Linked DNA regions of Homo sapiens: regions 1, 2 and 4 are each linked to region 3. The links come from fine-mapping of genetic effects on gene expression. A gene starts in region 3. Each other region holds a variant in brackets. All regions are shown on one strand. Distances are between the middles of the regions. Region 1 overlaps ZNF638 (zinc finger protein 638). Region 2 has its middle 300 kb from the start of CYP26B1. Region 3 holds the start of ZNF638 (zinc finger protein 638). Region 4 overlaps ZNF638 (zinc finger protein 638).

Region 1 (8,109 bases), 100 kb before region 3:
AACTAATAAGCAGAAACTACTATGTATATGACGTTCCATTTGTGTGGTGTGACTAAAGGAGGAAGATTTTCTGAAAATGCCAAGAACAATACTAAAATTATATGCAAAGAGCATGTTTATTTTCTGAAAACCTCATACAAATCTTTTGTATTTGAAGCCCTATGATAAAAATTACCAGCATTAAGTGCAAAAAGTCCCAGAGAAAAACATTATTTATAATGTACAATTAATGGTCAACATTGGTCACTAGGATAAAACACAAAAATCACCCCTACCATTTTTATGCTTTAGCAGCTCCTCCTCTCATTCTAATTTAGAATCCCAATTTCAAAAGACTGATCCAGACAAGATTAAAGAAGCTTATAACTTCCCTAGTTGCAAAAGTTCCAAAAGCAAGCTGAGGAGAAAGGAAGATTCTTTAAAACTAAGATTCTTATTCACTATCACTGTGCTTCTGTAATTTACAGGCACCTTATTCCCCAATCTTTTAACAGCTCTTCTCCCTCTTATTATCCGGATTCATCTGTAAGGTTTTAATTCCAACAAACTCTTGACAGCAAGCCGCTCCTCTCTCTACCCCACCCCTTGTCTGTGACGTGTAGCATTCTGTAATTTTACTCAGGCTGTGGGTAAGTCTCGACTAAGTATGCAGTGAGTTTCATAGGAGGTGACAAAGAGGTGCTGCCTTTTTTTTTCTCCAAGCCCTTCTTACTGACTGTGATGTCTCTTGTGCTGTGATGGAAATAAGACATCTAAAAAAAGTAGGGTTTTTGTTGTTGTTGTTGTTGTTCCCCTCCATTCATCCTCTTTGTATTATTAATTGGTGCACTCTATCTTGAGGCATCAAATACTAAAACAATTATAAGTATTCAGACTATGTCTGAAGAATGGCTCAATCTAAAAACTTAAAAGTATAGGGCTATTTCCATCACCTGCTAGCCATTCAATTATTTTTTGTGCCCTTAAAACTTCTTATAAACATATTCAACTATAATTCAAATGGTTTAAAAAGCTACTCTGGTGGTCCACAGAAGTAATGGCTGCTCTGTAGATTCAAGCTAATAATAAATGACTAGCTTGGTGTTACCTTAAATGGGTTCTGGCAGAAACAGCAAGTGTTACCAGAAGCAGAAAAAATACCTTTCCAACACATATAAAAATCAAGCAAAGTTTCATTCAAACCTATTTGGGGAAAATATGCTGTAATCTAATTTTATCCAGAAAAAATTTGAATTTTAAGAAATCTATGACCTGTATACACATGAATGGTTGAAGCAAAGTAAAACACTGTCATGCTATGACTTCCAGTGATACATGAAGAATCCCCAAACATCCCAAATCACAGGAGTTGTAGTGAAAAACCTTGTCTGCAATCAGAGGCAAGCAAGTCTTTAAAAAATCAGCCACAAACACAGATGGTATTTTAAATATACAGTAGGAACATTTATTTTAACACTTCTAAAAGATATTTCTCCATGCCTGATGATTTGATATAAAAATCAAACCCATCATACTTTCCCCATCAGTCTCTCTACATTTAGGGCAATCAGAAATTTGTACAACACGAATATTTGCTTCTGAAACGAAAATTACAAATTAAATGATAACAAAAATACACAAATCAACTGGACCCTAAACAAATTTCTAGTGAATTCTTTCCTTTCCCCCAATCACCTAGAGCTTCTTTCTTCAGCCTCATTCTGCTCCTTTTCCTTTCTTTGCTTGGCCATGAATTTCTGTTAAAAGCAATTTGCAATATAAAATACTTATTAGACGTTATTTTGCTATGTGTGCAAACTTATCTACTGTATATTTATAATTTAAAAGAAACTGATCCTACAAAATATTATAAACACAGTGCCTTATATAACCATTTCTTCCTTTCATTCATCAGTCATTTGATGTTTATGACACACCAGGTATTACACTTGGTGCCTGAGGATTCGGTGGGCAACAAGACAGATAGAATCTTTTATACAATAAAGCTTACATTCTAATGGGAGAAGAGAAACAATAAAAGAAAAAAATAAAATACTTTGGGGGCGGTGGTAAGCACTTTAAAGACAGTGCAACAACGTAATTGAGGCTGAACTTTTTTGGGGGTTCTACTTAGCTAGGTCTTTCTTAAGCAGACCTTTCTGGGGAACTGATATTTGAGACGAAAAACATGAAGAACTGGCCATGCGAGTAGGACTGGGAAGGGGCAAAAGAACAGCAGTATAAAGGTGCAAAGGCAGCAATGGGTCTCTCATGTATGAAAAACAGAACAGAGAGAGCCAGAAAAGCTGAAACACAGAAAGCATTCAGAGAAGTAGAAAAGAAATCAGATCATGCAGGGCTTTGAAGACCCAAAATAAGAAGTTTGGATATTAGACCAAGTGCAATATGAAGCTACTAGAAGGTTTTAAATGGAAAAGTGACATGATGAACTAAGTTAAGCACACAGGTAGCAAAGCACAATGTATAAGAGCTTGGGCCTAGAATGAAATAGAGCGGAGTTCAAATCCTAGGTCTGCTACTAACTAGCTATGTGACCTTGGGTTTAGATACGTAACCTCCTTAAGTCTATTTTCTCATCTTTAAGATTGGAATAATAGCATCTACCTCATGAAGTTCATGAGGAGATTAAATAAGCTTCCAGCATAGAACAGCTCAGTAAATGTTAGATGAGTGTCTGTGCCACAAATTCAACAGAGAGGATGTACGAAACTCTCAAATATTCAGCAGGAACTAGAGTCACCACTTCAATTATGGTTAATGATGATTCTCCAGAGTAACACTTCTTAAAGATGTGTACAATTTAGAAAAGGTTTTGTGATTAAATCAGTTTAATAAATGGTTTGCATGAAGTTAACCAGGATTCATTCTGGCTAGACAATTCAGAAACTTTAATATGCTAATGTCTACATGACAAGAGGGCATCAAAACATGCAGTTTCTTACTTTAATAATGGAGTGTCATATGAGACTAGTGATCTGCAGAATCTACTCTGGCAAATGTTGCTGTTCAAGGAAAAGGAATAAGGACTAGAAATTACAGGCAAGGTACACTGAAGGAGAAAACAGGACTTAAGAGGAATAAACTGGCATAAACATTCTCCTAAAGCGGGGGGAAATGTACGTTTGGGGAGATAAATAATTTGATTCTAAGACAATAACAACACCTCAAGATTTTGTAAGAATTTTTAAAATTACCTCAGTATTTTGCTTATGACGTGTACTCTTGCAGTGATTTGTCATTGCTTTTTCACCTGAGTAGAAGAGGGAACAAATTGGACAGAAGAATCCAGCCTTAGGTACAAGAAAGTCTAATTCTAGAGGATAAGAAGAGACAAGAAGAAAATTAACAATAATTAATCTCCAGTTGTGTTCATCGATTTATTCATTTATTTGAGACGGAGTCTCACTCTGTCATCCAGGTTGGAGGGCAGTGGCGCGATGTCAGCTCACTGCAACCTCTGCCTCCTGGGTTCATGTGATTCTCCTGCCTCAGGCTCCCGAATAGCTAGGATTACAGGTGTGCGCCACCGCGCCTGGCTACTTTTGTACTTTTAGTAGAGATGGGTTTTATCATGTTGCCCAGGCTGGTCTCGAACTCCTGACCTCCCCTATAGGATGTGCCTGCCTTGGTCTCCCAAAGTGCTGGGATTACACGTGTGAGCCACAACTGGCCTTCATCAATTTAAACACGACAAAAATATTAAGCACAGTATATACTTAAATATAAGAACAGTACACACTGCTATAAATTTAGGGATCAATAGTAGTAATTTTAATCAGAAAACGTAAGTCTTTATTTCGTTAACACATTCTATACTATTCCAGAACCTCTAGGGAATGCCAGTATGCCACTGCTTTGGTATAATGCCAAGTTGAATAGATTCCCAAGGAGAATCTTCGGATAACAAAGAACTGTTCAATAATCCTTCAGAATACCAAGTCATTAGATAAGAACCTAACAGTCTAAAATATACCTCTGGCTGGGAGAAGTGGCTCAAGCCTATAATCCCAGCACTTTGGGAGGCCAAGGCGGACAGACTGCTTGAGCTCAGGGGTTTGAGACCAGCCTAAGCAACAAGGTGAAACCCTGTATCTACCAAAAATACAAAAACTAGCCAGGTGTGGTGGTAGACGCCTGTAGTCCCAGCTACTCATGAGGCTGAGGTGAGAGGATTGCTTGAGCCTGGGAGGAAAGGGTTGCAGTTAGCTGAGATCACATCACTGCACTCCAGCCTGGCTGACAGAATGAGACCCTGTCTCAAAATAAAATATAATAAAAATAAACCTCTTAGGAATCCCATTAAAATAAAAGAGAGAGAAGAGGTAGAATGATGGGCAACTGTCTGATTGAGGAGTATGATGGCTGAATAAGGTCTCCCTCAGCTCACCTTAGCTGACCATGAACAAAGTCGGCTAGCAAAGATTTGCAGCATGTTCTGCTTAACTGGAGTGACTTTCTGCCTGGGCAAATATAACTCAATTCTCACCAGAGTGGCAAAGAAAGCACCAGGAATAAAAGAGGAGATACATCCCAGATTTCAAGAGTGCAGTAAAAATATCCTTCTCAGGTAAAAACAGCCCAGTAAGCTGTCTTCAAAAATGCCACTGTGTAAAACATGCAAATTTCCACTATAAAATGACAATGCAGCCAAGGTTACCCAATTACTCACCTAAAACAATAGAATACTTATTATGGTGTTTTTGTTTTTT[T/G]TTTTTTTTGAGACGGAGTCTCACTCTGTCGCCCAGGCTGGAGTGCAGTGGCGCTATCTCGGCTCACTGCAAGCTCCGCCTCCCGGGTTCACGCCATTCTCCTGCCTCAGCCTCCCGAGTAGCTTGGACTACAGGCGCCCGCCACCACGTCCGGCTAATTTTTTGTACCTTTTAGTACTGACGGGGTTTCACCGTGTTAGCCAGGATGGTCTCAATCTCCTGACCTAGTGATCCACCCGCCTCGGCCTCCCGAAGTGCTGGGATTACAGGCTTGAGCCACCGCGCCCGGCCGACTTTTAAATTTCATATGGGTAAGAAAAAAATGTCATTTTAACTTTACCCTCAGGGACATCAGACGCCACTGATTTGCCTGAAGAAGAGTCTTCAGTCTTCTTGCGTTTTCGCTCTGGTTCTGAATCCTTTAATCCAGATTCCTCATCAACTAAAATTTTTCGAGGAAAAAAAGCTATTCAGAATAGATTTACAGACTTTGTAAAGTTAACATTGGATAATTCTTACCTTTTTCTTTCTCAGGGAAAACCTCCCTTTGTTAATCCCATCTGGCCATTCTTTGCACAATATTCTCCAAGATTCTTTAATGTAAGGAATAAATGGGTAAATCCATTCAAATGGATTTAGGAATATAGGTCTAAAGCTAACAGCAAATTTTATTTATATATGTTCCAGGCAGAATTTAACGAAGTAATACAAGTCCTATCATTACTGGCAAGAGAACTTATATATGCAAAGTGCTAAGCTGAGCCGAGAGTGGAGATTAAGGGAAAAGGATACCAGCAGAAATTGATTCTATGGCCCAATACTGAGGCCCTTCCAATCTAGAAAATGGAGCCTAAACTGATAGCCTAAGACCCCTGTTAGAAACACAAGTAAAATTATTAATATAAATGTTAAAGCCCACCAAAGTGAGTAACACGTAAGAAGCACTCAATGTTAGCAGACTCTGCATACTATGATCTTGGGGACAGACAAAAATGAAGACTGATTCCAAGCAATTCTGATTACCCTCAGTAGCTGAAATGCCTTACTGTTGCCTAATACTTGACAAAACCCTTTTACATATATAATCATTCATTTAGCTTTTACCTCATGTAAGATAGGCACGTGAAATCATTATTAACCCATCCCTATTTCTTCAGAGATGGAGAAAGCACAATCAAAAGAGGTAATAAACAGATATGCCCAAGGTTGCATAGCTAGTGAGTGACACAGGCTAGAACCAAGACTTTGTGACTTCAAGTTCAGTGTTCCCTCCATACATCTGGGCTACTCTTTAGTATTCCTGAGGGGATGGCAAGGAACTCTGAAATCATTACTTACTCTTATTCCTCACACTTTACTGATCATCAAGTCCTACAATCAATAAGAAAAAGGTATCTTCCTTTTCTTAACTTGATGGTTAAAACAATCTGGTTTCCTTGCCTCCAATCTCTTTCTATAATTGTTTATTTCTTCATCAGGGTAATAAACTTTCCCAAACATATCTGTTCCTGCCACTCCAAAGGCACATTTATCTTAATAGTATATAACATATATTAAAATTATATATTTAAAATAGATTAAAATAAATGATTTAAGTTTACAATTGTGTGGAAAAATGACTTTTTCTTAAGCTAGGTCCTTTTGTCAAAACATATTGTTCATTAGTAGAAATATATTGTTACGTAAGCAGTAACTAAATCATCCTTTTATATTACTCAGTTGCAATGAGGCAGTTCTAAGCAAGCTGATTGCCAAGGTTGCCCTACCATACAGAAATTCTGAAGTCGGGGGGTGACCTCATGAAATCATGCGAGAACCTAATTACTGAACCACCACCTATAGCTTGGTTATCAAAGATTGTTTATGGAAAAGAATAGACAAGGAAGAAGGAATACCCACTTGACCATGACTTGGCAAAGAGTTTCAAGAGAGGGCATAATCAAAAGTAACCAATCATGTGGAAAAGTCAAGTAAGACTAACTTAAGAAGAAAACACTTTAAAAAATCACGTTTGACAACAACCTAATGGGGGTTTCATCAACATCATTTTCAGGAAAGTGGTAGGAGAAAGAAACCAAAATACATTCAGTTCCATGGGAAATTAAGACGTAAAAGTAGGTGGTTCTTTCTAGACGTTTTGCTCTAAAAGCAAGTAGAAAAGATAGGAGCTAGAGAGATTTCAAGGTCAAAGGGATATTTCTTTCAATGGGAAAAACTTGGCCAAATTTTATATTTTATGTGTATAAAACAAAATATAAGTTGGCAGACAAGGGAGATCCTAGATTTACTCTGGCAAATAAAAACGAAAGCAAGGACATCCAATGAGAAACGGGTTAGGTGATGTAGAAGGGGGGGAAAGCTAATTTTACATCTGGTTAGGAAATAGTAAAGGAAGGAGACCTCTAATATATTGGGAGCAGCACTGAGAGCCCACCTGAAATCCTTGGACCAAATCATACTTGGTAAGTTTTCCTTAAAGAAGATAGGATAGGAAAGAAAGAGGGCAATGAGGGTGCTACAAAGAGAATGGTAAAAGCGATACCCTTACAGTGCTCTATTTAAATCATACTGGCAAGGTGATTTTTTGCTTAACCTCTCTGAATCAATAAACCCCTTGAGAGCAAGAGCTATGTACTTTCTTTTGTCTACCCTTTTTAACATTGTTATGAAGGATACCCAATACAATATGACAAGTATCTGCTGAGTGACTAAAGTATTCTCTCTCACTAGACCCTTCCTTATTTGTTTCAAGTTAAATTTTATAAACGCTATTAAGGCTTCTTGTTTAATTCATTGGCTGGCTGCTGACAAGCATCAACAAAGCAAGGTCCACAAATAATAGCTAGTTAATAAATAATTTCTATCTGATGCTGCAACATGGTCAGAAAACCTTTCGAGGATCATTTCCTCTAATCTGTCACATTCTAATATCAATAATCCATTCTCTCTACATTACAAAGATCAAAATGTTACCCACATCTAATAACTATAGTTGACTTTTCCCACCCCTGCTCTATTCCACTGATTTTCTACTTTTCTTCTTAGATAGATCTTTAAACTTCAACTACTCTCCTGTGTTGTGTAACTTTCCTTCCCATTCCAACAATCCTGCTTTACCTTCACTCATCTGGAAGGCCTCTTCACCTTTTGCTGGTTCTGTCACAACAGCTTTTTCTGATGGCAGAGTTTTCCCAATTCTAACTCTCTTGGTTGGAGTTTTAGCTTTAAAAAGAAAGTCCTAATTTATTGCTCTAGTAACAGTATTTAAATTGCTTTAAATTAAACATATTATACTGTCTGAATCAACATTATACATTTTTGCAAAAAATACCCAAATTTGGGAGGGAAGCCTACTGCTAATATAAAATAGAAGAATTCTATTTTAAAATAATCAGTTTAA
Region 2 (8,109 bases), 520 kb before region 3:
CAGTTTAGGCAGAGAAAGGTTATTCAATGTCCCCCAGAATTGCACAAAAGGGTAGAAAGACAGGCTCAAAAAAACAGATGAGAGTAGTGGAAGGCTGAAAAGCCAGGGCATAGCCCAAAGCACGTCACAGAAGGGGCTCTGAGATGCACCAGCTCTGAACACTGGGCACAACAGCTGGCACTGCTGCTGCTGCTCTCCCTCGAAACTGAAGGCTGCTGATGCTGAAGTGACCACCAGAATCATTCTTCCCTGTCCTGGGTTTGGTTTAGAGTCCAGGCAGGGAGTCTCCAGCCCTGATCAGATGCCCCCATCCCAGTCGCATGGGAAGTTAGCATCCAGCTTCAGCATCTGTAGCAGGAGTGGGAGTGGGAGGTGGCTGAGCCTATGCCTCTCCACAGCCTCTCAACAGGTTCAGCCAGCAATCAGCTGCTACTGTGGTCAGTGAGTGTATGAAGGAAAGGGAGGCCTGCCCTCTGGATTCCAGGCCTGTGCATACCCGTGTGGCACCCGCTGTGGGCAGCGGTGAGGCAATGCGGTACAGAGTTGGAACCTGAGCATCCTGCCCTCTGGGTCCTCACCCGGCCCAGGGGCACTTTTATGATGGTATTTCTCTCAAGAGCTCCCAGGCTGGTGAGAGAAAAGTCTCACCCATAGAAAACTTCTGGAGACATCAGAACAAGGGCAAGAAATGCATCTCGGCCTTTAAGTGCTGCTAAGAATTCAAGGAAGAGATTGGGGATGTCAGGGAGGGCTTGGCTGAGATGGGCCTTGGAAGAAGATGGTGTTTCAGGATGGAGGGATGAGGGAGGGCATTTTGCTGTGAGTGGAGTTGTGAGCAAGAGAAATTTCTGTCCCTTTAGCATCTCTTACTGAGATATGCCAGTGACTGGCCAGCTCTCTCCAGGGATAGGGGGTAAGGAATGACAGAGGGGGCCTGGGTTCATACCCCAGCCCAGCTAACCATGAGGTTTGCAGCTAGAGGCTTCTTAAGTGTTGGGAAGAGCACAGGCTTTCAATCTTGTTCCTGATTCTTCTGATTTTGAGAGCTGCTTCATGTATCTCTGAGCCTCAGTATCCCCATCTTTAAAGTAAGCATAATAGTAGTGCCTCCCCTGGGCCTGCTGGGAGTGTTACAGTGAGGTAAGGGATATAAAAGGCTTAGGACATGGTCAGGCACATAAAAGCACATCTTATAGCCAGTGTGGCTGCTGCTTCTGGCAACGACACAGCAAGGTCAGAAAAGTGCCCAGCATGCAGGCAGGGTCCATAGTGGGCACCAGTGCATGTTTTCCTTCCCTATTCCCTGATTCCAGTGCTGTCCCTCCCACCCAGGTGCACAGTGTCCTCAGCGCTGCCCCTACCCAGGAATCCCTCAGCTCTCTGATCTTGGAGCATGTAATGAAGGGTCTGTGGGAGGACAGAGAGTGCAGGAAGTGTGGGCACCCTCAGCCTCACCTCCCCTTGTGTCCTGCAAAGTGTGATAGAGGCTCCTGGTCACTCACTCAGCCAGGAGGTGCTCCCTACAACCTCCTGGGTCTGACTGGGAGCTCTCTGAGGTGAGCCATGCCGCGTTACCTGGATGGGCACAGGGCTGGGGGTGGAAGGACAGTGGAGGGCACAGACTACAGCCTTACCCAGAATGGGCCTCCATCCCCCACTCACCTTCTCTCCACCCCACACACCCCCAAGGTAGAATGGGGGCAAGGAGCTCCACGGCAGGACATAGAGGCTTAGAGGAGCTTCAGGTGCCCTTGACCTCAAAACACCGGGGCTGGGTCAGCTGGACTGCCCTGAGCTTTGAGGGGAGGGAGCAGTGTCCCTGTTCTTACACCTTCAGCCAGGCACAGCTCACACCACTAGTTCCTGGGGTCAGGGTCTGGATACTTTTCTCCCTCCAGCCCCGCAGGTCCAGGCTCCGGGCTGCCCTTTCTTCCCTCCCAGCCAACCTACCGAGCAGCCCTGGGCCAGCCCCAGCTGCCGCTCCCCTCCCCGCCTCCCGTCCCCAGCACAGAAGCCCTGTCAAGGATCACTGCAAAGCACCACGTGGAGATCTAATCTGGGGCGGGGGCGCCGAGCTGAGGCGGGGTGGAAGGGGTCGACGAGAGGAGGAAATTAATGATTAAATAATGGGTTCCAAATGTAGCGGCTCCGAGTGAAATCCCCAGCCGCAAGCCGGCAGGCTGCACGCTCTCGGCCCGGCTCCAGGAGCCCCGAGGAGGCCCAAGTAGGCGGCGGAGATGCTGGTGGCGGCGGGCAGGCGGCTCCCCCTAGGCCCGGTCAAACAGTCCTGGCCAGGACGCGGGGTCACCGGGTTGCCTGTGGGGCCCTGGTGATTCCTGATGACAGGTGGGAGCCCTGCCACTTGGAGCATGCCTGCCGCAGAGCAGGGACCCACCGGGGGTACACGGCAGTAGGGGCTGAACGGGCAGTGAGGAAGTCTTGGCTGGCAGGGCTGCAGACACTCTTGGCCTCCATGCCTGGCACCCACTCCCCAATTCATTCCACCACTTCATTGTTCTGGCTACCCTGAGCCTCAGCTCTTCCTAGAGCAAGTCCCCAGAAAGAATCTGAGGAGAGGGGAGACCTTCCAAGACCACCAGTCCTACCCTGAACCTTCCCCCATGAGCATACACCCCTTCCTATGTGGAACTGTGACGCTTGCCCGATATGTGGGTGAGACAGTCCCCTACGATGAAACTTTGGTCTTATCTACAGCAGATTCCTTTCATTGTGCCTCAGTTTCCCTCTGAACACTGAGGGCTGGGATTCCTTTGTAGCATTCCCTGGAAGCTAGGATTGTTTTGTATGCATTTTTCTCTCTGACCAGTCGGGAAGGTGTGTGAGCCAGCCCCTGGACTCTACAGAGGTTTCTACTAGAGAGTTCTGCCCTGGGCTCTTGACACACCTCCTGCGTGTGAGGGGAGGGCCCAGGTCTGGGAAGCTGGGGACAAGTATCTTGGCCCCATTGCTCCTTTCCTCCTCCTCTGGAACCCTGCTTGGAGCCTGAAATTTTCCACACTGAGCCTTTGGCTGCGGACGCTGGAACTTTTGCAATTTCCTGACTTGAAAACTGCTCCCCCACCCCTACACCCTCCACCACGTTCCCGTAGGTCTTGTGGGGGTGGTCACCTCAGCAGGGGCCCAGAGCCCAGGCTGTAGGGAGAGCATGCATCTAGGCCTTTGGCTGTGATGTTGAAAGGTGCACTCTTCGGCTGGAAGCTCCCATGCCACTGTCTGTCATTGTCTGCCTGTCTTACCCCAGACCTCCCAGGAGAATGACTCACTTAAAGGCCCAGGAGAGTGGGGATCAGTGGGGCAAGAGGGAAATCCATATCCAGGTAAATTGAATTGAATGATGGTAGTAGAATTTCTGTGTGTAAGTCCAACCATACAGAACAGATTCTACCCTGGAGTTGGGGCACTGTCCCCCTCCGAGACCAGGTGAGGAATGCTGAGAAATATGTGGGCCTGGGAAGGTGACACACAGCCCCGAAAAGCATTGGGTTTAGAGCCTGG[GA/A]CCAGACCAGACTCAGAACAAATTGGAAGCCAAGGTGCCCAACTCTGCTCCTGGCCATTTCTATATTGCTGAGGCTGCCACAGTGGGCCCTGGCTGCTTCAAAATGCTGCATCTGGCCAGGGGACAGCTGCCAAGCCCGAGCCTGCAGGTAGAAGCCGAGAGGGAGCAGTTCTCATATGATTTGTGCAACAGTGCGGAGCCATGTCATTTTCCACTCCTGCAGCTCTCCAGAGCTATTCTGTATCATATCATCTGGGGGCTGATAGCCCAGACCCAGTCCAAGCCTGCCATGGGCCTTGTGTCACATCCTGCCGAGCTCTGGGGCACAAATCCTGGGTCACTTTTATGGACTTCCATTCTCTATCACTCTGGACAGGCAGGCCAAATAAACACCAGGCCCAATAAGCCTAGGGCCTTCCTCTCCCCGGGTCCCCCACACCGCCTCATCCAAAATCCACACACCATCAGGGATTGCGCGTGCAGAAGAATTTTAATAAAAACAAGCAATTCAGAAGGGCTGGCAGGGCAGCCAGGCTGGCCTTGTAGACTGGTGCTATTCCTGGCCTGGGAGGCCAGGAGGCTCTCCTAGGAACAAGCACTCCCAAGACAAATATGGAGCAACAAGCCGGCTTTGTTTTTTACCTTTGAAGACAGAGTGTCCAGGCTGGGACTTGGCCACACAGGACGAGAGGGGAGGGTCTCGGAGGGAGGGACTAAAGAGGGATCAGGGCTGACAGCAGTGTGTATTTGGGGCTCTGGTCCTTTTTGAAGAGGGTGGCCATTTAGGGTCAGTGTATGGAAGTAAGGGGGCAAAATTTTCATTAGCTTTGCCACCTGTCTGGTCTCAAGTTGTCACCTCACTCAACACCATTCCCCTGCTCGCCCACAGCTCAGTCAGGTGCCTGCTGTCCCCAACATGAAAGTCAGTCACTAAGGGCCCCGAGCCATGGCACAGATGGAGTAAAAACAAAAATCAAAAACAAAACTGAGAACTTTTAATCCCTTGGTGCTGTGGAAATGGATTTTTTCCAAAAGGAATTTAATTAAAGACAGAAAAAGACCAACATAAACCAAGAAATCGCACACACATGTGAAAAGTGCTGTGACAGCCCCATAGCCCTGGCCTGAGAAGAGAAGTCTGGGCACTGGGTTCCAGGGCCCCCAGAAGCCGGGCCTGTGGAAAGCAACCTTGTCTGCAGCAGTTTCAGAAGGCCATGGGGGTGGGGAGTCTCAGTCCTCCGCAAGGTGTGAGCCAGGCAGTCTCACGGCCCCAGTCAGGGAAGCTCAGCTCTCGGCGGCTGCCCGGTGACCATCCAGACTCAGTGGTCAGGATCCCTGCTTTCTGCCTTGAGACACGACCTTGCACTGCTCATGCACAGGGTGGTGAGGGTTGATGCTCCCTGGTACTCACCAAAGCTCACATAATAACATCTGCCCATTTTAGAGAAGTATCTGACCCTTCTCTCCAGTGGTTTTTCCTTTTCTTTCTTTTTTTTTTTTTAAGCAAAAATAGGTCTATTTTTGTGATTTTTAAAATTTGACAAAATTTTCTTAGTCCAAATCGATCCAGAAAATTGTGGTCAGCAACTCCCTCCCCTGTATGCAGCCACATCAAGGCTCTGGACGTGGTGAGCCTGCTCCTAACAGCTCTTCAGGCCCCTACGCCCTCCTTTCCGACCTGACTCCTGTCTTTTCAGATGCTGACAATGTGACTCATTTCTTTCCAAAGCCCTCACTTTGTCCCTTAATGTGTGGCTCAGCTCAGGCTGGTGGCTTCTCCTTGTCACCAGGATGCAAGATTCCCACAGCTACAGTGCTCCTGCCCCCTGGGGAGACGCCTGCCCCAGTTCAGCCTGACTCTGGGCCCTTGCGTCAGGGCACAGCCCCTCCCAGACAGCCCCCTTCTAGGCTTACAGGGCCTAAAAGGAGGTTAAATGAATGAATGAGTGAACGGTGAACCCGTTTGCAGTCTGCACACATAAAGGCCTTTCCCGAATGCCCAGGCAGAGCCACTCATTCTGTATTAACCCCTTTCTCATAACCCTTATTACACATTTCTCATATCAATATCCAATACTGATTATCTCCAGGCCTGCCTTGTGTACGCTGTATCCTCCTAACATTTAGAACCATGCCTGGCACATAGTACATGCTCAGTAAATGTCCATGGAATTAGCGACTGAGATTGATATGATTTCAATGTTTGTCCCCTCCAAACTTCCTGTTGAAATGTGATTCCTAGGTGGGGCCTGGGGGGAGGTGATTGGGTCATGGGCAGATCCCTCATGATTGGCTTAGTATCATTGCCTTGGTAATAGGTGAGTTCTTGCTCAATTAATTCTCATGTGATCTAGTTGTTTAGAAGGGTCGGAGACCACTCCCTTTCTCTCTCTCTTGCTCCCGCTCTCACCATGGGACATGCTGGCTTCCCTTCACCTTCCATCATGATTGGAAGTTTCCTGAGGCCTCACTAGAAGCAGTGGCTGGCACCATGCTTCCTATGCAGCTTGCAGAACCATGAGCCAATTAAACCTCTTTTCTTTATAAGTTACTCAGCCTCAGGTATTCCTTTATAGCAACATAAGAGCGACTGACACAGAAATGCCACTTGGAGTTTTCTCAACCTGGGCTGTGATTCTCTTTCTTCCTTTTGTTTCTGCACCTCTCACATCTCAGTTTAAGCTTTTTCTTTCCTTTCTTCATCAAAATCATTCAAGATTTCCCTGGAAGCCTCTCTCTCTCCCCCCGCCCCCACCCCCCTTCTCTCTGTGTTTCTTTTCTGAGACAGAGTCTTGCTCTTTCACCCAGGCTGGAGTGCAGTGGCACAACCATGGCTTGGTTCACTGCAGCCTCAACCTTCCAGGCCCAAGTGATCCTCCTGTCTCAGCCTCCTGAGTAGCTGGGACTACAGGTATGCACCACCACACCTGGCTAATTTTTTTTATTTTTTGTAAAGACGAGGTCTCACTCTGTTGCCCAGGCTGATCTCGAACTCCTGGGCTCAAGCAATCTTCCTGCCTCAGCCTTACCATATCTGTCTCAAGATTCTGGGGTTGTAAGGGCCTCTGCCCTCTATTAGGCTTTGCCTTCTCAAAGGCAGTGGCCTTCCATTCTAATCTCCATCTCCTCTGTTGCAGCATAGTGCCCGGCACTCACAACTGTCCTATGAATAAATGTAGAAGAACCAACAGAATGCATGAACTAATGAGTGACTATTTTTCTCAGAGTTTTTGGAAATCTCACTGGCTATCTAATGGTCACTATTCATCAGAATTCCTCCCACTGTCACTTTTCTAGTTAATTTGTTCTTGCAGATCAGAATTAACTCCAAAGAAAAATTATTAACCCTGGGTGTTATAGACTTCTGGAAGATAACTCTTCTATCTTTTATCCACTTTCCGTCTCTGCCCCACAGAAGCCACATAGCAGTCAGTTTGGTATCAGTCAGCATAAGCAAAGTGATGATATGGTAACAAATAGCCCTCAGTATCAGTGACTTAACATAGCAGGTCTGGGTGACTCTCCTGGCAGGCTCTTCTGTGCAATGTCTTAACATGGCCCCTCCACATCAGCAGGTGCCTACACAGCTGCTGCAACAAGACAGAGGTGGAGAGCTGAGCATGGCCAGGCAAGTTTGATTAACCAGAGGGGCACACAACACTTCTGCTCACATATCTTCAGTCAAAGCAAGCCACATGGTCCCTCTTAATTCCTAAGGAATGGAGAAGTGCCACCTCCCATGTACCTAGAAGGTGGGGAGAGCAGATATTGGGCAACAGTTAGTGGTCCCTGCCACACTGGAATTGGGGTCAAACTCAGCCTGCAGAGACTGGTAGAGGTTCCAGCTGTGGCTGAGGAGATGAGAAACAGAACAATGGAAAGAACCCCACCCTGGATCTCAACCAGGACTTGGACTTCTCAGTCACACTAATTACCATACCAGTCACTTCCTATGATTTTTGCCAGGAGCTCTGCCGGGAGCCCTGAGTAATCACAGCTTCACAGTTACCATCAGGGCAAGCTTTTTCAAACTTCCCTCAGGCAGCAGATTTCAGCTCAGGTCCCTGGGCCTGGGGCCTGAGCATCTTCCTCTGAGGGCCTCTCATTCAAACCTTGTCCCTGTCGAAGGGACACTCCAGGGAAGAGTGACTAGAAGGAGATGGTCTGCTGAGTTGAGTCCGCTGCCACAGCTTCACCCCTGCTGCAGCCCTTCCCAGCCCCTACCTCTTCCCTCCCCTATAACCCCCTGCCTGCAATTCCCACATCTCATGAAGTCTCTTCCCCTTTGGCTTTCTTGGCCAAACCCTTGGTCTGGGTTCCTCAGGTGCAATCTAGTGGCAGGGCCAGAGAGCCAATTTGATCTCTAGTTTAAAAAACAATAAGATGAAGAAAGGGGAACGGGAGAGGGAGGAGAAGGAGATTATTGAGCTCTCCAATTAGAGCAAGACTGGTTACAATTCTTTTTTTTTTTTTTCTTTTTTTTTGATATGGCATTTGCCAGAGCCCCTTAAGGGTCAGCTGCCTGGCTCTTTGATCCAGCAGTCCGTTGATTCTATCCTCATCAGCCCTGCCTCCTTGCTCAAGCCTCTCTG
Region 3 (8,109 bases):
GGAGTTTGAGACCAGCCTGGGCAATACAGCAAGACCTTGTCTCTATGAATTTTTTTAAAAAAGATTAGCCAAGTGTGGGGACGTGTGCCTGTTGTCCCAACTACTCAGGAGACTGAGGCAGGAACATCGCTTGCACCCAGGAGGTAGAGGCCGCAGGGAACCATGGTGGCCTTAGAGAAAGAGTGAGATCCTGTCTCAAAAACAAAGCAAAAAAACATAATGTACGTTAAAGCTATTTCTCCTGTTTCCTGGACTTTCTTTTCAAACCAAAACCCTGGACTTTCTTTTCAAACCAAAACCCTTATTATTCTTAACCCTCACCGGAGTTTTTTTTGTTTTTTTTTTTGGAGACGGAGTCTAGCTCTGTCGCCCAGGCTGGAGTGCAGTGGCGCAATCTCGGCTCACTGCAACCTCCACCTCCCGGGTTCACGCCATTCTCCTGCCTCAGCCTCCCGAGTCGCTGGGACTACAGGCGCCCGCCACCACGCCCGGCTAATTTTTTTTCTATTTTTAGTAGAGATGGGGATTCACCGTGTTAGCCAGGATGGTCTAGATCTCCTGACCTGATCCGCCCACCTCGCCTCCCAAAGTGCTGGGATTACAGGCATGAGCCACCGCACCCGGCCCTCACCCGCATTATTACAGTTGTGTGTTTTATTTCTACATCTCACCTTTTCCTCACTCTTTTTCCTTTCCATTATTCTCTTCTCATCTTCTATATACTTATTTTCCTTCCATTTTAATTTTCCATCACAAATTTCAAAACACTAAACAAAGTTAAAGCAATTAAGAGTAGATAAGCTGGATACACATGAGGGCTTATTAGCTTTAGCCACAAACATAATTACTTTCAATTTGGAGAGTCTCTAAAACCACTACATGGCAGCATTCATTAGCGCCTGTTTCCTTGCAAAACAGCCCAAGCTATGTTACTGGGTACCAATACTGGAAGTACTGTTTCTAAGTATATAAGGCATTTTATTAAGGATTTGGACAAATTTAGTCCAAACCTTAATCAGTATACATTAAGGTACAGTGGAAAGAGCATGATTTAGAGTCCAGGCTCTGGTGACTACCAGCTGAGTTCATTCACTCAACATCTGAGCATCTAATACATACCAGGCACTGGGAAAGATACAAAGACTAACGTAACAATCATATAAATGGTTACAATATATATTGATAAGTTCTACAAGAAAGGCATGTAAAAAGTTTATAGAAGCACAAAATATTTTAATGAAAGTTAGATTAGAGGGCCTTTCAACTCCAAAATTCTATTACTCTAAATCCTTTTAAGCCGTTTAATTAGAAGAGAATACCCACAGATTATAATTTTCTATCAAACAATGCTGCCTAAGCACTTCAATTTTGAAATACAAGTAACAGCTAACATTAAGCACCTAGTATGTGCCAAGGAATACGAGCTTTCCATACACTGTCTCACTTAACAGTCACTCACAAAAATCCCAAGCAGGAAGTAATAATGTCACCATTTTAGAGATAAGGAAACAAAAGCTCAAGAAAGACTAAAATAATTTACCAAAGTCTCACACATACTGAGGAAAAGGGAGATGTGAATCCAGATCTTCCGACTGCAAAGCCTATTCTCTTTCCACTAAACTACTTGTCTCATTTTCTTCCACTTACATAAAAACAAAATTTCCGGAGATCACCTACTTAAGAGCACCCAAGAAAAACCCTAAGATAGTCAAGTACAAAGTGATGACTTTTTTAAACTACAGTACCTAAACCTTTTTAACCTAGAGTACCTGCCGTATACACCCTCCAAAACAAAATGCAAAAAAGGATTACAAAACAAATACAACCAATATACAATAAATATGTGACCATAAACACATTATGAAAACTAGTTAATAAAAACGAATAAGATTTTGTGATTTCTTCCAACTGTTATATTTACCCTTTCTTGGTTCCAAGACAAATAAATCCCCAAGGAAGGAATGGCCCAGCATATTTTAATGTATAACATGCTGGGACGCCCTGTAATTATTTAGAAGTACATATTACAGAATATGGAGTACAAAATAAAATATAAAATGCTGTCAAACTTTTTTAAAAGACAGCAACATAAGTCCACTAAGTCTCAAATGTCTAATCATTAACAAAATTTAAAGCTATTTGAATGTCATTTACATGTTTGTTTTTCTCCGAAAACTTCCTTAAATTCACCTTTTTTTGGTCAATCCTTTTCTCCAGGTTATCAATTTTTAATTGTAAATCTGAACCAGCAAGCACAACATCCCTGAAAAAATAATCCTTTACAACAAATGAGGGGAAAAAGCAGAAAATTTTTTGTGCAAAATTCCAGAGCTCGTTGGAAAAAGTACTTGAACATAAATCGCTGGATCCTGGTGACAAGTTTTTCATCGGGACTCCTTTAAACTACTACAATTTCTGGTCCTGGCCCCAAACTTCGCCTAAGGACAAATTTTAAGATTAAGAAAAATTAGCTTCAGGTAGCCTTCACTCTATAGCTCAATCCATGATTTTGTAATACTGAAGTATCCCTCATTAACAATTACCTCAAACAACAAAAGATCTATTTCAAACGTTCTCAAGGATTCCAGTCTGTGATATATACATTCCCCCTTCCTTTAAGAGAACGGGGCCCAAGCTAAGAATCACACAAAAACAATTCACTAACGTTCTGTTTTCACAATTCCTCTGAGAAATTTGGAAATACTGTTAGGTATCACAACCATTTATGAGTCCTCAGTCTCCCACAGAGGTGATATTTTCTTTGGTTTCATACCTGCACTACGCAGCACAGAACACCAGCCCGGAAAAGCCGCTGGATCCTAACATTCCCTCCTTCATCCCGACACCCCCTCCCCAACCCCAAACACAAACACGCTCTTCTCTCCACGCTTCTTGCACAATGTCGCTGGTCAGAGGGCTCGGCTCAAACTCCACCGCCTCTTCGGGCCCGACGGGAACGCTTCCTCCCTGCTCGGCATTCCCTCACCACCGCTTCCTCGGCTGTCAGGCCCAGCGCAGCCTCGGCAGGCCGGGCGCTGCTGGGGAAGGGGCCGCCTCGGCCTCGCCAAAGGGCTCTTCACGATCCTCGGCCCAGTGCAACGGCGTCAGGCAGCTCTTCTCGAGGCAGGGTCCTTCACGAGTACCCGGACGGGCCCTCCCGGGTAGCGAAGTGAATAAACGACGGAGCAGGGCAGCACAGCACAGCTTCCCTTCCCATCCCGGGGGTCCCCCAACCTCCTCCCGCCCCCGCCGTCTGCCCGCCGCCATTTTGTGCGGAGCCGCTGCGACACAGATACAATAGTCGGCCCGGATCTCACAGGAAGGGCTCAGGACCCCCACGATACCGGCCTCCGCCTTCCAACCCCCTACTCCCCACAGGGCAGCGGTCCTACCTATGCCTACCCGACTAACAGCTGGATCCCATCCGCGCCCCACACAGTTTAGCACTCAGCCTCCAGTCTCGACGCCGAAAACGCTACCGCCTCCAAAGAGCTGCACGCATGCGCGCCTCCCAGCTCCTGCGAGCCCTCGTAGGCTCCCGGCGCCTGCGTACCGCTGGCACCGCGCTCGCCCGAAGCCCGAGAAGAGCCGGGCGGAGCGGGCTCCCGGAAGGGGCGCTCCCGCGTGGTGGCGGCGAAGGCGTGCGGCAAAAAAAAAAAAAAACTCCAGCGCCGTCTTCACTCTTTTGCTGGTTCTGTGCCTGTCCTCTCCAAACCGCTCATCCTTTTAAGACCTATATTGTCTCACCTCCTTCATGAAGTCTTCCCTGATCATTTGTGCCTTCAATAATAACATTATATGGCCAGGCGCGGTGGTTCACGCCTGTAATCCCAGCACTTTGGGAGACCGAGGTGGGTGGATCATCTGAGGTCAGGAGTTCGAGACCAGCCCGGCCAACAGGGTGAAACCCCGTTACTAAAAACACAAAAAATAGCCGGTGGCGCGCGCCTGTAGTCCCAGCTACTAGGGGGTGCTGAGGCAGGTGAATTGCTTGAACCCGGGAGGCGGAGGTTGCAGTGAGGGAAGATTGCACCACTGCACTCCAGCCTGGGCAACAGAGTGAGACTCCATCTCAAATAATAATAACAACATTATATTATAACAGGTTATATTCGCGCCTAGCACGTTAATATAATGCTTTGTATGGTCAAGATTTTGCCTGCTTTTATCCTGTCACCTTGCACCTTTTGATCCCTATGGCAATGATGTGTGTCATAGCTACTCAAAACTGTAAAGTAGAATTCAACCAAAGCTATTCAGCTAAAACTTTAACACTCTGAAAATCCTTTTGTCATTTCACAATAAAAAGCCCTATCTGTGTGGTAGATATTTGTAATCTCCATTTTACCCATGGAAAACCTTGGGATGACAGACGTTAAAGAACTGTGTTATGCAATGTTTTATCTTCTCGAGGTGGCTGTACTACACCAATATGAAAACCCAGTCATTGTTCAAAATCTGGTAAAGCTACAAGCCCTGCCGTATGCATACCACACAAATCACACCACCCACCCTGAGTCTCACACATCGGTTTTACCTAGCACTCAAGCAAATGCATTTCTTTTATTCACATTAAAACAAGCATTTGAAAGACTAAAAAGAAAAGTCGTTTTAAAAAGATATCTTATCGGATTTTCATTTCAAACCAAAAATCCTGCTAGGGACAACAAATCAAAAACAACAAAGAAAAAGCCAACAAGCTCCCCCTAAACACCAAATAACCCATGTTAACATTTGATAAGTTTCCTTCCATACATTTCTTTATATTCATACAAACACATTATTTGCATGTAACAGGAAATGTTTTCTTTTTTCACACATTAGCTATTTGCTTTTCTGATTACTGACATTTCTCCAAGTAAACCATATAATCCTTTTTTAAATAATTGTATAATATTCATAGTATAGCTGCCTCAGCAATTATTCAGCCTGTTGTTGAACACTGAAGTTGTTTCCAGTCTTTTTGCTACTGCAAACACTGCTGTATACAAAGACTTACCAAATTATGCTTTAATTTCTAAAGGCTAGAATCATCATAGTGGGAATGCTAGATTAAATGTATATGTGTGTACATACATTTAATTTTAATAGGTGTTGTAGAAAAACTTCCCAAAAAGTTTCTACAAAGTGTCACTTCCACTAAATATGTAAGAAAATAGGCAGGGCAAGGTGGCTCATGCCTGTAATCCCAGCACTTTGGGAGGCTGAGGCAGGTGAATCACAAGGTTAGGAGTTCAAGACCAGCCTGACCAACATGGTGAAACCCAATCTCTACTAAAAATATAAAAATTAGCTGGCTGTGGTGGTGCACGCCTGTAATCCCAGCTACTCGGGAGGCTGAGGCAGGAGAATCACTTGAACCCAGGAGGCAGAGGTTGCAGTGAGCCGAGATCACGCCACTGCACTCCAGCCTGGGTGACAGAGTCAGACTCTGTCTCAAAAAAAAAAAAAAAAAAAAAGAAAATAACCATTTCCCTACAAACTCACTTCTTTCTCAAACCTGAAATACTTTAAATATCATTGGACTTACCTGTTCTTTAAAGTTTGAAATAATTCACCTTTGAAATATCTTGTTTGGTGCTTTTTCTGAGAGTTGTTCTTCTCTAATTTTCTCTTGATACTTTATGATATTTAGTTGGATAAGAATTTCTCTCTCTTCCACAATGAATTTGGTAATTTATATTTTGCTTGAAAAGCATCCATTTCATCTAGATTTTCAAACATTTCCCTAGAGTTAGGCAAAGTAACTTATGAAATTTCTTTCATTTCCTTTATGTGGGCCCCTTATATGGCTTTATTTATTTGCACAGCACTTATCACCTTCTGATATACCAATAATTTATTTATTTGTTTCTTTTCCATCTTCCTCCACTAGAAATGTAAGCTCCCTGAGGTCAGGGATATTTGTCTGTTTTCTTCACTGCTTTATTTCCAATACAGAGAATGATAGTTGGTACGCAGTAGAAAATCAGCAAATATTTCTTGAAAGAATGAATGACTCTGATGGTGTGTATGTGTGTGTGTGCGTGTGTGTGTGTGTGTCACTGTCAAGCATCTTTTCATATCTACTAGCCAGGTGTATTTCTTTCTTTTTTTTTTTAAGTCTCCATTTAACTGTTTTATCTGGTGATAATAAACTGGCAACACAAAGGGGCCGAGGGTGAACTCCCAGCCAGGCTCCCGTGCCCAGGCTTTGGCAGGAGCCATGTGTATTTCTTCATTTAAAAAAACTCTTTTTCATATTATTTGTGCATATTTCTAGTGAAGTGATTGTCTCTTATCAGGAGGTAGCTCTCACTATATATTTGTCAAATATGTGGCAATTAGTTTCTCCTCACTGAAATTTTGTTTCTATCTTTTGCTATTATAAACTAAATGGTCATGAAATCAAATCTATCAATCTTTTCATTTATGACTTCTGAGTCTTCTTTTCATCCCACTCCCTTGAAGCATACACACCCAGAAATTACACAAAATTCTCCTGAGTTATCTAAACTTCACAGTTCATAATTGTTCACTTTTGTTTACAACCTCACAATTTTATTTTTTACATTTAGATGTTTAATCAATCTAACATAATTTTTATGGTATGAGGTAGATCTAGCTTCATTTTCTTCCAAATGAATAAAGGCAATCATGAAGGTTCCAGCTGTTAAGTAAACCATCCTTTTTCACATAATTGAAATATATCTTCCCCTTAAAAAGCAAATAACAAAAACTATTTCATTCCCATGTATAAAAATGGATTTATGGCTCTTCTAGTCTGGTTTAACGATCTATCTGTCTACCTCTGAGTCAGGGCCATTTCATTAACTGAGCCAGTAAATATGTATTGTTTATGTTTTTATTTTCTGTATATTATGATGTTTGACATCTTATTAACCTTTCTGGCTGGGGAGAAATTGCCACTCCTGGGGCTAGCCAATTCTTAGAGAAGGCAAAGTTCAGCCAGGAGCTTGACTTTGATATGCAAACTACCAATTCAGAGCCATCCTCCTCTATCTGGCAGGTATACCCCAGGAGGCAATATTCCTCTGCCTTAGTCATCCCAGGGTCAGGTACCAGGCAACCACAGACCACTCCTATAACTTAGAGCCTGTGGAAATGTTTCAAACTAGCCAGTCCTGAGCTGTTTACCCTGCTCTGTCTTCCCTTTCCCGAGAAACTCCAATAAAGGCCTTGGCCTGGGCTCCTCCTCCTGCCACTCGTTCCTGCCCCTTCTGCCTCCTGACAGACTTGGGTGTTTCCTCATGTGGCCCTGTATGGCAGAGCGTGCCTCCTGCTTTTAGGACCTGGGAGCATAGTAAACTTTGTTTCCCTGAGCTTCTCCTGGAACTCCTCTTGTGGCCGCACCTGACTGACCCTTACATAAAAGAACGCAGAACAAAATATTACTTGAGGGTGCACTCTGTGCCTGGAACTATTCTAGCCATCAAGGAGTGAGTAGCAAACCAAAAGGCAACACTCACTCCTGCCCTCATGGCACGTACAGCCTTGATCAAGGAGACAGACAATTAACAAGTACATTTATAGTATGTCAGATGGTGACAAACGCTATGGAGGAAAACAAAGCAAGATCAGGACACATAACAGAGGCTGCAATTTGAAATGAGATGGTCAAGAAAGGCATCACTAAGAAGGCAACATTTGAACAGAAATCTGACAAGTGTGTGAATAAGCAGTATAGAATCTAGGAGGAAGAGTATTCCAGGAAGAGTGAAAGTAAAATGTAAAAGCTCTGAGGTGAATGCCAGCTTGCTGTACTTGAGAAAGCAGAAAGGCCAAAGAGGCCACAACAGCATAATTAAGAGAGGACACGGGAGATGAGGTGGAGGGGAGCTGGAAACACTTGCTGGATTAGTGTGCTAGGGCTGCCGTAACAAATCACCACAAGTTGGGTGGCTTAGACAACAGAAATTAATTCTCTCCATTCTGGAGGCTTCAAGTCCACAGTTACGGTATCAACAGGTTTGGTTTCTCTTGACATCTCTCTCCTTGGCTTGCAGTTGGCTGCCTTCCCACCGTGTCCTCACATGGTCTTTTCTCTATGCACATGAATCTTCCTCTTCTTATAAGAACGCTAATCATATTGGATTAGGGCCCCACCCT
Region 4 (8,109 bases), 38 kb before region 3:
TCAGTAAGGAATTGGTAATACATCTGTGGTATATTCATACAGAGAAACACTATAGAGAAGTTACAAAGAATGAGGAATGCACTAACATGGTTAGACTACCAAATCAAATTATTGAGAAATGTGTGTTATAGAACCTCTATAAAGTAGCCATTCCACAGCTAGTAGAAAAATTAAATTACTAGAACACATAGCTGGGTGGAGCAAAATGGTAGAATAGAACCCTACACTGTTCATCCCATCCCCAGCAGGAACACCAAATTTTAACGACTATCTGCACACAGAAAAGCATCATCACAAGAACCAAATATCAAGTGAGCATTCATACTACCTGGTTTTGACTTTGTATCACTGAAAGAGGCATTGACGAGGGTAGCAGAGACAGCCTTAAATCCCTGACAGCACACCTCCCTAATCTGGCCCCACAACATGGACAGAGTCTGTGCACTTTAGGAAGGGACAGCGCAGTAACTAGGGGACTTTACATTGAACTCAGTGCTGCTCTGTCACAGTGGACAGCAAAGCCATGCTGTACTCAGCCAGCACCCATGCACTGAAGGAGCCTTTGGACCAGACCTAGCCAAAGAGGACTCATCCATCCCGGCAATAAGAATCTGAATTTCTTGGCAAGTCTCACTACCATGGGCTAAAGTGCTCCAGGGTGCTAGGTAAACCTGAAAGGTAGTCTAGGACACAAGGACAACAACTCCTAGGCAACTCTTAGGGCTGGGGCTGGGATTAGAGCTAGTGGGCTGGGATGGCATGTAACCTAGGGAGGTACCAGCTGGGAAAACTGGATATCCATATGCATTAATGAACCTGAACCCTATCTCTCACCATATACAAAAATCAAATAAAAATAGATTAAAGACTTTTATCTAAGATCTCTAACTATGAAACTACTACAAGAAAACACTGGAGGAACTCTCTCTCCAGGACATCAGTCTGGGCAAATATTTCTTCAGTAATACCCCACAAACACAGGCAAATGCTGTACAAAAATGAACAAATGGGACCACTTCAAGTTAAAAAGCTTCTGCAGAGCAAAGGAAACAACAGACAACCCACAAAATGAGAGAAAATAATTGCAAACTATCCATCTGACAAGGGATTAATAACCAGAATATATAAGGAACTCAAGCCACTTTACAGGAAAAAAATCTGACAAGGGATTAATAACCAGAATATATAAGGAACTCAAGCCACTTTACAGGAAAAAAAAAAACTAATACTCTGATAAAAAAAAAATGGGCAAAAGATCTGAAGAAACATTTCTCAAAAGACAACACATAAATGGCAAAAAGGCACACGAAAAGGTACTCAACATCACTGATCATCACAGAAATGCAAATCAAAACTACAATGAGATACCATCTTACCCCGGTTAAAATGGCTTTTATCCAAAAGACAGGCAAAAACAAATGCTGGCCAGGATGTGGAGAAAAGGGAACCCTCAGTATATTGTTGGTGGGAACGTAAATTAGTACGATCACTATGGAGAACATTTTGAAGGGTCCTAAGAAACTAAAAATAGGATCAACCATACAATCCAGCAATCCCACTGCTGGGTATATATACCCAAAAGAAAAGAAATCAGTATATTGAAGAGGTATCTGTACTCCCATGTTTCTTGCAGCACTGTTCACATTAGCTAAGATCTGGAAGCAAACTAAGTGTCCATCAACACATGAATAGATAAAGAAAATGTGGTACATAACACAATGGAGTACTCTTCAGCCATAAAAATGAATGAGATTCAGTTATTTAAAATAACATGGATGAAACTGGAAGTCATTATATTAAGTGAAATAAGCCAGGCACAGAAAGACAAAGATCACATGTTCCCACTTATTTGTGGTATCTAAAAAATCCCACAATTTGTGGGCTCTAAAACAACTGAACTCATGGAGACAGAAAGTCGAAGGATGGTTATGAGGCTGGGAAGGGTAACAGGGGGTAGAGGAGGGGATAATTAATGGGTACCAAAAAAAAACAGAATGAGTAAGACCCAGTATTAGCTAGCGCAACAGAGTGACTATAGTAAAAAATAATTTAATGTTACATTTTTAAACAATTATAAGAGTATAACTGGATTATTTGATACACAAAGAATAAATGTTGGAGGGGACAGATATCCCATTTTCCATAATGTGATTATTACACACTGCATGCCTGCATCTAAACATCTCATGTACCTCATAAATATATATACCTACTATGTACCCACAAAAATTAAAAATACAATAATTTTTTTTAAGATATAAAAATATTTTCTCAACACCCTATTTTAAAAAACACACACATACACAAAGAAAACCTTACAGGTGAGATATACATATAGCTTTTTACTTAACAGAAAGCTCATCCTTAAAGGGTAATTTAAAGTAATTCTATAGATATTATCTACGATCATATGAACTGAAGCACAGAAATGATCTAGAAAAATTAAAGTTACAAAACTTGATACTTCTAAGGAAGTAAAGGCCCAAAGAATGTACACTATACGATTTTGTTTATGTAAAGTTGAAAACAGGCAAAACTCAACTATGGCATTAGAAATCAAGTTAGTGTTTACTTGTGAGAAGAAGGGAGGGTGTAAGAATTGGGAAGAAGCAAGCAAGGGACTTCCAGATACTGTCAAATGTTCTCTTTTGTGACCTAGGTACCAGATTCACAGATGTTTGCTATTTTTGTGTTATATATGGCAAGTATTTTCTCCTAGTCGTCGTTATTTAATACTGTATATAGCACCATACATGTATGAGGAAGTTTTAATTTCAACATACTTGAATTAATGCACATATAATGTGTTGAGCTAACATTTATGTTTCTATGCCTATTTCTATATGTGTGCCATACTTAAACAAAAAAGTTAAACTAAAACAACAGTGATAAAACATTTAAGACCTAAATCCAGATTACCTGTGCTTTTTTCTTTCCTGGAACACATATTTTCACACTTTTTCCTTTTATCGTAAGAGGTGTTGTTTCAATGTACTTCATAATTGCAGTAATTGCCTCTTTAAATTCCATTTCTAGGTAAGCCTAAAATGAAATTTATTCCATCTTTAGTCACAAATCTATCTTTAAAAGTTCCTGCATTTTAAAATGGGCTTAATCCTTTCTTTTGTAACATCAAACTATGAAACTACCTCAAGTCATGGTTGCTTTTGCCTGTTTTTATTTTGGTCAAGTATAATTTGATTAAGGATGTTTCACACATTAAATGGACATTTAACCTTACATAATTTCTATACCACTACCAAGATAAAAAAAAATCCAGGCAGGCTCATGGAAGAAGAGGAAATGAGAAGGCAGGGCTCACTGAACAACAGGAGGGAAGGGAAGATATGGTCCAGCTTGTGGTAGGTCTGACATTTTAAAGGCTTCTTGCAACAAAGACAACACTATCACTATGTTCCCTGTCCTGACTCACAAACTTTTTAAAAAAATTAAGACAGAGGTCTTGCTATGTTGCCCAGGCTGGTCTTGAACTCCTGGCCTCAAGCGATCCTCCAGCCTTGGCCTCCCAAAGTACTGGGATTACAGACTTCAGCCACCACACCCAGCCTTAACTCACAAAACTTTTTTTTTTTTTTTTTTTTGAGACGGAGCCTTACTCTGTTGCCCAGGCTAGAGTGCAGCGGCGCCATCTCTAGTCACTGCAACCTCTGCCTCCCGGGTTCAAGAGATTCTCCTGCCTCAACCTCCCACGTAGGTGGGATTACAGATGTCTGGCTAATTTTTGTATTCTTAGTAGACACGGGGTTTCACCATGTTGGTCGGGCTGGTCTCAAACTCCTGATCTCAGGCGATCCACCTGCCTCAGCCTCCCAAAGTGCTGCGATTACAGGCACAAGCCAACACGCCCAGCCTTAACTAACTATTTTATGTTGTGCTTATGTGAAGAACTGTTCACAGTTCTTAACTTTATCATGTGAGTTATAGGAATATAACCCACAGAAAATACTTAACCATACAAAGGAAATAATTTGTTTTAGTATTATCTAACTGGT[G/A]TTCTAAAGTAATGACTGGCAAACTATGGCATACTACCTATTTTTGTAAATAGTTTTTTGGACACAGCCATGCTTGCGCATTTACATATTACTTATAGCTGTTTTTGTACTAGAATGCCAGAGCACAGTAGTTGAGATCCTACAGATGGCTTATAAAACCAAAAATATTTAGCTGGCCCTTTACAGAAAAAGTGGGCAAACACTTATTTTAAAGGATATAAAACATTATTTTGCGGCCTTGCTTATTCACATCCAGACATTTATATAACTCTCAAAGAACAATTATATATGCAGTACAAGCAGCTAAGGAACACAACAGCAATTTATAGAATCATTAAAGCAATCACTTTGTATGAATTTTTGCCACAGACTAAATGACTCACCTCTTTTCTATATGGAACAATTAGGACATCATTCACTTTCCCAAATGGTTGAAATAATTTTCTCACATCTTCTTCAGTACAACCATCCTCTGGTAATTCAGTTATAAGAAGAACCGAACCATAATGCAATGACTGTTCTTTCCGAAGCTATTTTTGGAGTGAAAGAAAATTTAAAATAAACCAAATTAAGCTACAATGTACAGTAATAATTTCCTATATAATTTCTTCTACCACTAATATTAGTACACTAAAGGGTCTTTTCCATATTTTTTACCCATTTTTCTTTTTCCTTCACCACCTCCTTTACGCATTTTTAAATCACGATTTTAACACTTTAATAAGATTTTAAATGCAAAAGTGGTAAGAAATGTTATTTATATTTTTTAACCCAGAAATGGTTTACAGGTGCTCTTTTCTGTTGATAGCATCTTATAGCAAATAAGATCTATGGAATGTTCCAAGGCCATTAGAGAGAATTTTTCTATGAAACTACATGGCCCACCAACAAGTAAAGCTGAAATTACAGCTTTGCTTACCCCCTCTGTTCTAATAATTGGAAATGATCTCTAGACAGGTATAATATTTTTAAAAATTCATATATAATGCATACCATTTGAATACACTGTAGTATCAACTTTACCGCTTACGTTAAAAATTACAGCCAGGCATGGTGGCTCATGCCTGTATCCCACTGCTTTGGGAGGCCAAGGCAGAAAGATCGCTTGAGGCCAGGAGTTTAAGACCAGGATGGGCAACATACTAAGACTCTATATTTTTAAAAAAAAAAAAAGGCCAGGCCTGGTGGCTCACGCCTGTAATCCCAGCACTTTGGGAGACCAAGGTGGATAGATCACAAGGTCAGGTGTTCGAGACCAGCCTGACCAACACGGTGAAACCCCGTCTCTGCTAAAAATAAAAAAAATTAGCCAGGCGTGGTGGCACACGCCTATAATCCCAGCTGCTCAGGAGGCTAAGGCAGGAGGCAGGAGAATCACTTGAACCTGGGAGGCGGAGGTTGTGTGAGCCAAGATCACGCCACTGCACTCCAGCCTGGGTGACAGAGCGAGACTCTGATTCAAAAAAAAAAAAAAAAAAAATTAAAACACCCAGCTGGGTGTGTTGGCGCATACCTGTAGTCTTCTACCTGGGAGCCTGAGGCAGGAGGATACTTGAGCTCAGGAACTTGAGGCTGCAGTGAGCTATGACTGTGCCACTACACTCCAGCCTGGGTGAGAAAGCGAGACCCCCATTTCTCTTATTTTTTACTAAATAAGAAAACTTAAAAAAAAAAAAGTTCCACTGCCACCACCTAGAAGTCTTGAAACAAAATGAAAAGAACTTCATATTATGAGACTAACTCAGCCTCTTCAAAATTTTCCCTATACTCAAAAATTTCTTCCCAATGCTCTTCAAAATTCTGTTAATTACTGGTTGATTATCAGAAGTTTATCCTTCTAAATGTAAGTTCTTTGGGGCAGGGAACAGCACTTACTGAAAGTCTTTCATGTATTTAAATACTGTTGAGAGCAATGCATTCCATACCTAAATACTTGAAGACTTATTAATATTAAAATATACAAAATATTTGATATTGGGCCTATTAGGATTTTCTCTGAAGATAGTCTCTTGATGTTTTAATATATTAATAGTGATTTAATAAACACATACAATAAAACAATACCTTAGTATCGTAACCAGTAGGTTACAGTCAAAATAACACTAATAAATCAGTACCAAAGTATAAATTTTACACTGTACAACAGAGTATTTGACTTCTGAACTGTACCACAAAAAGTATAGAACAGATGAATAATGATCAATTCTCAGGAGAGGCTCACTCTTATACCTTACTAAAAAAGATTACAAAAGCTCAATAATGCTGCTGGTGATTATTCATTTTCCCAATTAGAGAGCAAAACTCATCACAGTGATCTGCTTGTGAAGCTAGCCAAAAATGCCAAACCATCAAAATGTTCTTTTGACACATCAAATACCAAACCACTGGAATTCCTAAGCTACGAGATTTTGAACCTTGGACTTTTATTATACTCACAAGAAAAACCAGTAAAATATTCCATACTAAAATCATGTAACAAAACTCATAATTTCAAAGTTATTGGAAACACGGAATAAAAAAGTTAAGACAACTTCATTTTTTTTTTTTTCTTGAGACAGGGTCTTCCTTCTGTAGTTCAGGCTGGAGTGCAGTGGTGTGACCTCAGCTCACTGCAACCTCTGCCTCCCGGGCTCAAGTGATCCTTCCACCTGAGCCTCCCAAGGCCTCCCAAGTAGCTGGGACTACTGGCACCCGCCGCTACCCCCAGCTCATTTTTATATTTTTTGTAGAGAGGGAGTTCCACCACGTAGCTCTGGCTGGCCTCAAATTCTTAAGCTCGAGCGATCCACCCCGCTTGGCCTCCCAAAGTGCTGGGATTCAGGCATAAGCCACCATGCCTGGCAACAACTTTGTTTTCTGTTTGTCATAGCAAATGTACGCATATTTGCACTAACAAAGAATTACGAAGCCAGGCATAGTGGCTCATGCACTTAGGGAAGCTGACGTGGAAGGACTGCCTGAACCTAGTAGTTCGAGACCAGCCTGAGCAACATGGCAAGACCCCATCTCTACAAAAATTAAAAAATTAGCCAGGCATGGTGGCACACGCCTGTGGTGCCAGCTACTTGGGAAGATGAGGCAGGAGGATCACTTGAGCCCAGGAGATCGAGGCTGCAGTGAGCCATGCTTGTTGCACCACTGCAGTCCAGCGAGGATGACAGAGTGAAACCTTATCTCTAAAAATAATTATTAATTAAAGAATTACCTTTCGCTGGAGAGAAACAGCTTTATCAGACACCTGTTTACATTCTGACAAAGTGTCATCTTCAAGATTCTTTGATTTACAACGAATAGAATGTCCTCCTAGATTTGAATCACTCTTTGTAGCGCTTGTAGGTTTAACTGATGGTTTTGTTCCACTGCTAGTTTTAGGCTTTTGTGCTGGTGAATGTCCCTTATCAGCAGCTTCAAGATGCTTCTGTTTATTAAATTCTGTCCCATGCCCAGATCGTTGTACTACATCTTCTAATGCTTTTTTTCTATCTAGTAAAAAGATATAAATATAATTTCAATTGGAAAAAAATTAAGGTAGGAGCCATCTCATGACATAATCACATAGTGCTATTCTCAAGCTAAACAGGGAGCACACAGACAATACAAAAATCTAGATTTTATGCACTCAGAAGGCTTTTACATGAAGTTCCTTTATTCCCTTATACCAGTGATCCTCAAACTTTTGGTTTTGAGATTGCTTTACACTTATTGAAGACTACAAAGATTTGTGTTATATTTACTGATATTTACCATATTAGAAATTAAATTGTAAAAATATTTATCAATTCATATGTTAGGTTGGTGCAAAAGTAACTGCAGTTTTTGCCACTGAAAGTAATGGCAAAAAAAGTAAATTCCCATATTAACATAAATATTTTTATAAAAACCAACTGTAATTCCCAAAACAAAATTAGTGAAATGTGTAGCACTATAGTACCTTCTTCCACACATTTTAATGTTGAGCTTAAAAGAAGAACCTAAATTCTTATATCTGCTTCTGGATAAAGAAAATCCAGCCTCATGGAGGCATGTAATTAGAAAAGAGATCTCATAGAACTCTTAAAAGATCTTGAGGACCCCAATCGATCCTTGGGCCATACTT

Evidence for each region. PIP is the estimated chance that this variant, and not a neighbour inherited with it, causes the effect.
Region 1: its variant is the best candidate, but not a certain one, in a credible set for the expression of ZNF638 in whole blood (TOPMed, PIP 0.54).
Region 2: its variant is the best candidate, but not a certain one, in a credible set for the expression of ZNF638 in blood mononuclear cells (TOPMed, PIP 0.90).
Region 4: its variant is the best candidate, but not a certain one, in a credible set for the expression of ZNF638 in whole blood (INTERVAL, PIP 0.59).

The regions. Positions count from the first base shown.
Region 1 is chr2:71,428,369-71,436,477 of GRCh38, reverse strand. It overlaps ZNF638 (zinc finger protein 638), which reads right to left. Exons shown (of 28, transcript NM_014497.5): 25 at 7,827-7,931; 26 at 5,050-5,151; 27 at 3,195-3,313; 28 at 1,417-1,736. The coding sequence ends at 1,671. Among named protein-coding and RNA genes, the nearest start is that of DYSF, 34 kb to the left of the region's middle. The variant T/G (reference allele first, on the strand shown) is at 4,710.
Region 2 is chr2:71,846,434-71,854,542 of GRCh38, reverse strand. No RefSeq gene overlaps it. Among named protein-coding and RNA genes, the nearest start is that of CYP26B1, 300 kb to the left of the region's middle. RefSeq lists a silencer at 5,070-5,364. The variant GA/A (reference allele first, on the strand shown) is at 3,517.
Region 3 is chr2:71,327,159-71,335,267 of GRCh38, reverse strand. ZNF638 (zinc finger protein 638) reads right to left here and starts at 3,486. Exons shown (of 28, transcript NM_014497.5): 1 at 3,393-3,486. RefSeq lists enhancers at 2,520-3,205, 3,206-3,893 and a silencer at 3,477-3,686.
Region 4 is chr2:71,364,816-71,372,924 of GRCh38, reverse strand. It overlaps ZNF638 (zinc finger protein 638), which reads right to left. Exons shown (of 28, transcript NM_014497.5): 6 at 7,219-7,496; 7 at 4,397-4,543; 8 at 2,920-3,042. Among named protein-coding and RNA genes, the nearest start is that of ZNF638, 37 kb to the right of the region's middle. The variant G/A (reference allele first, on the strand shown) is at 4,014.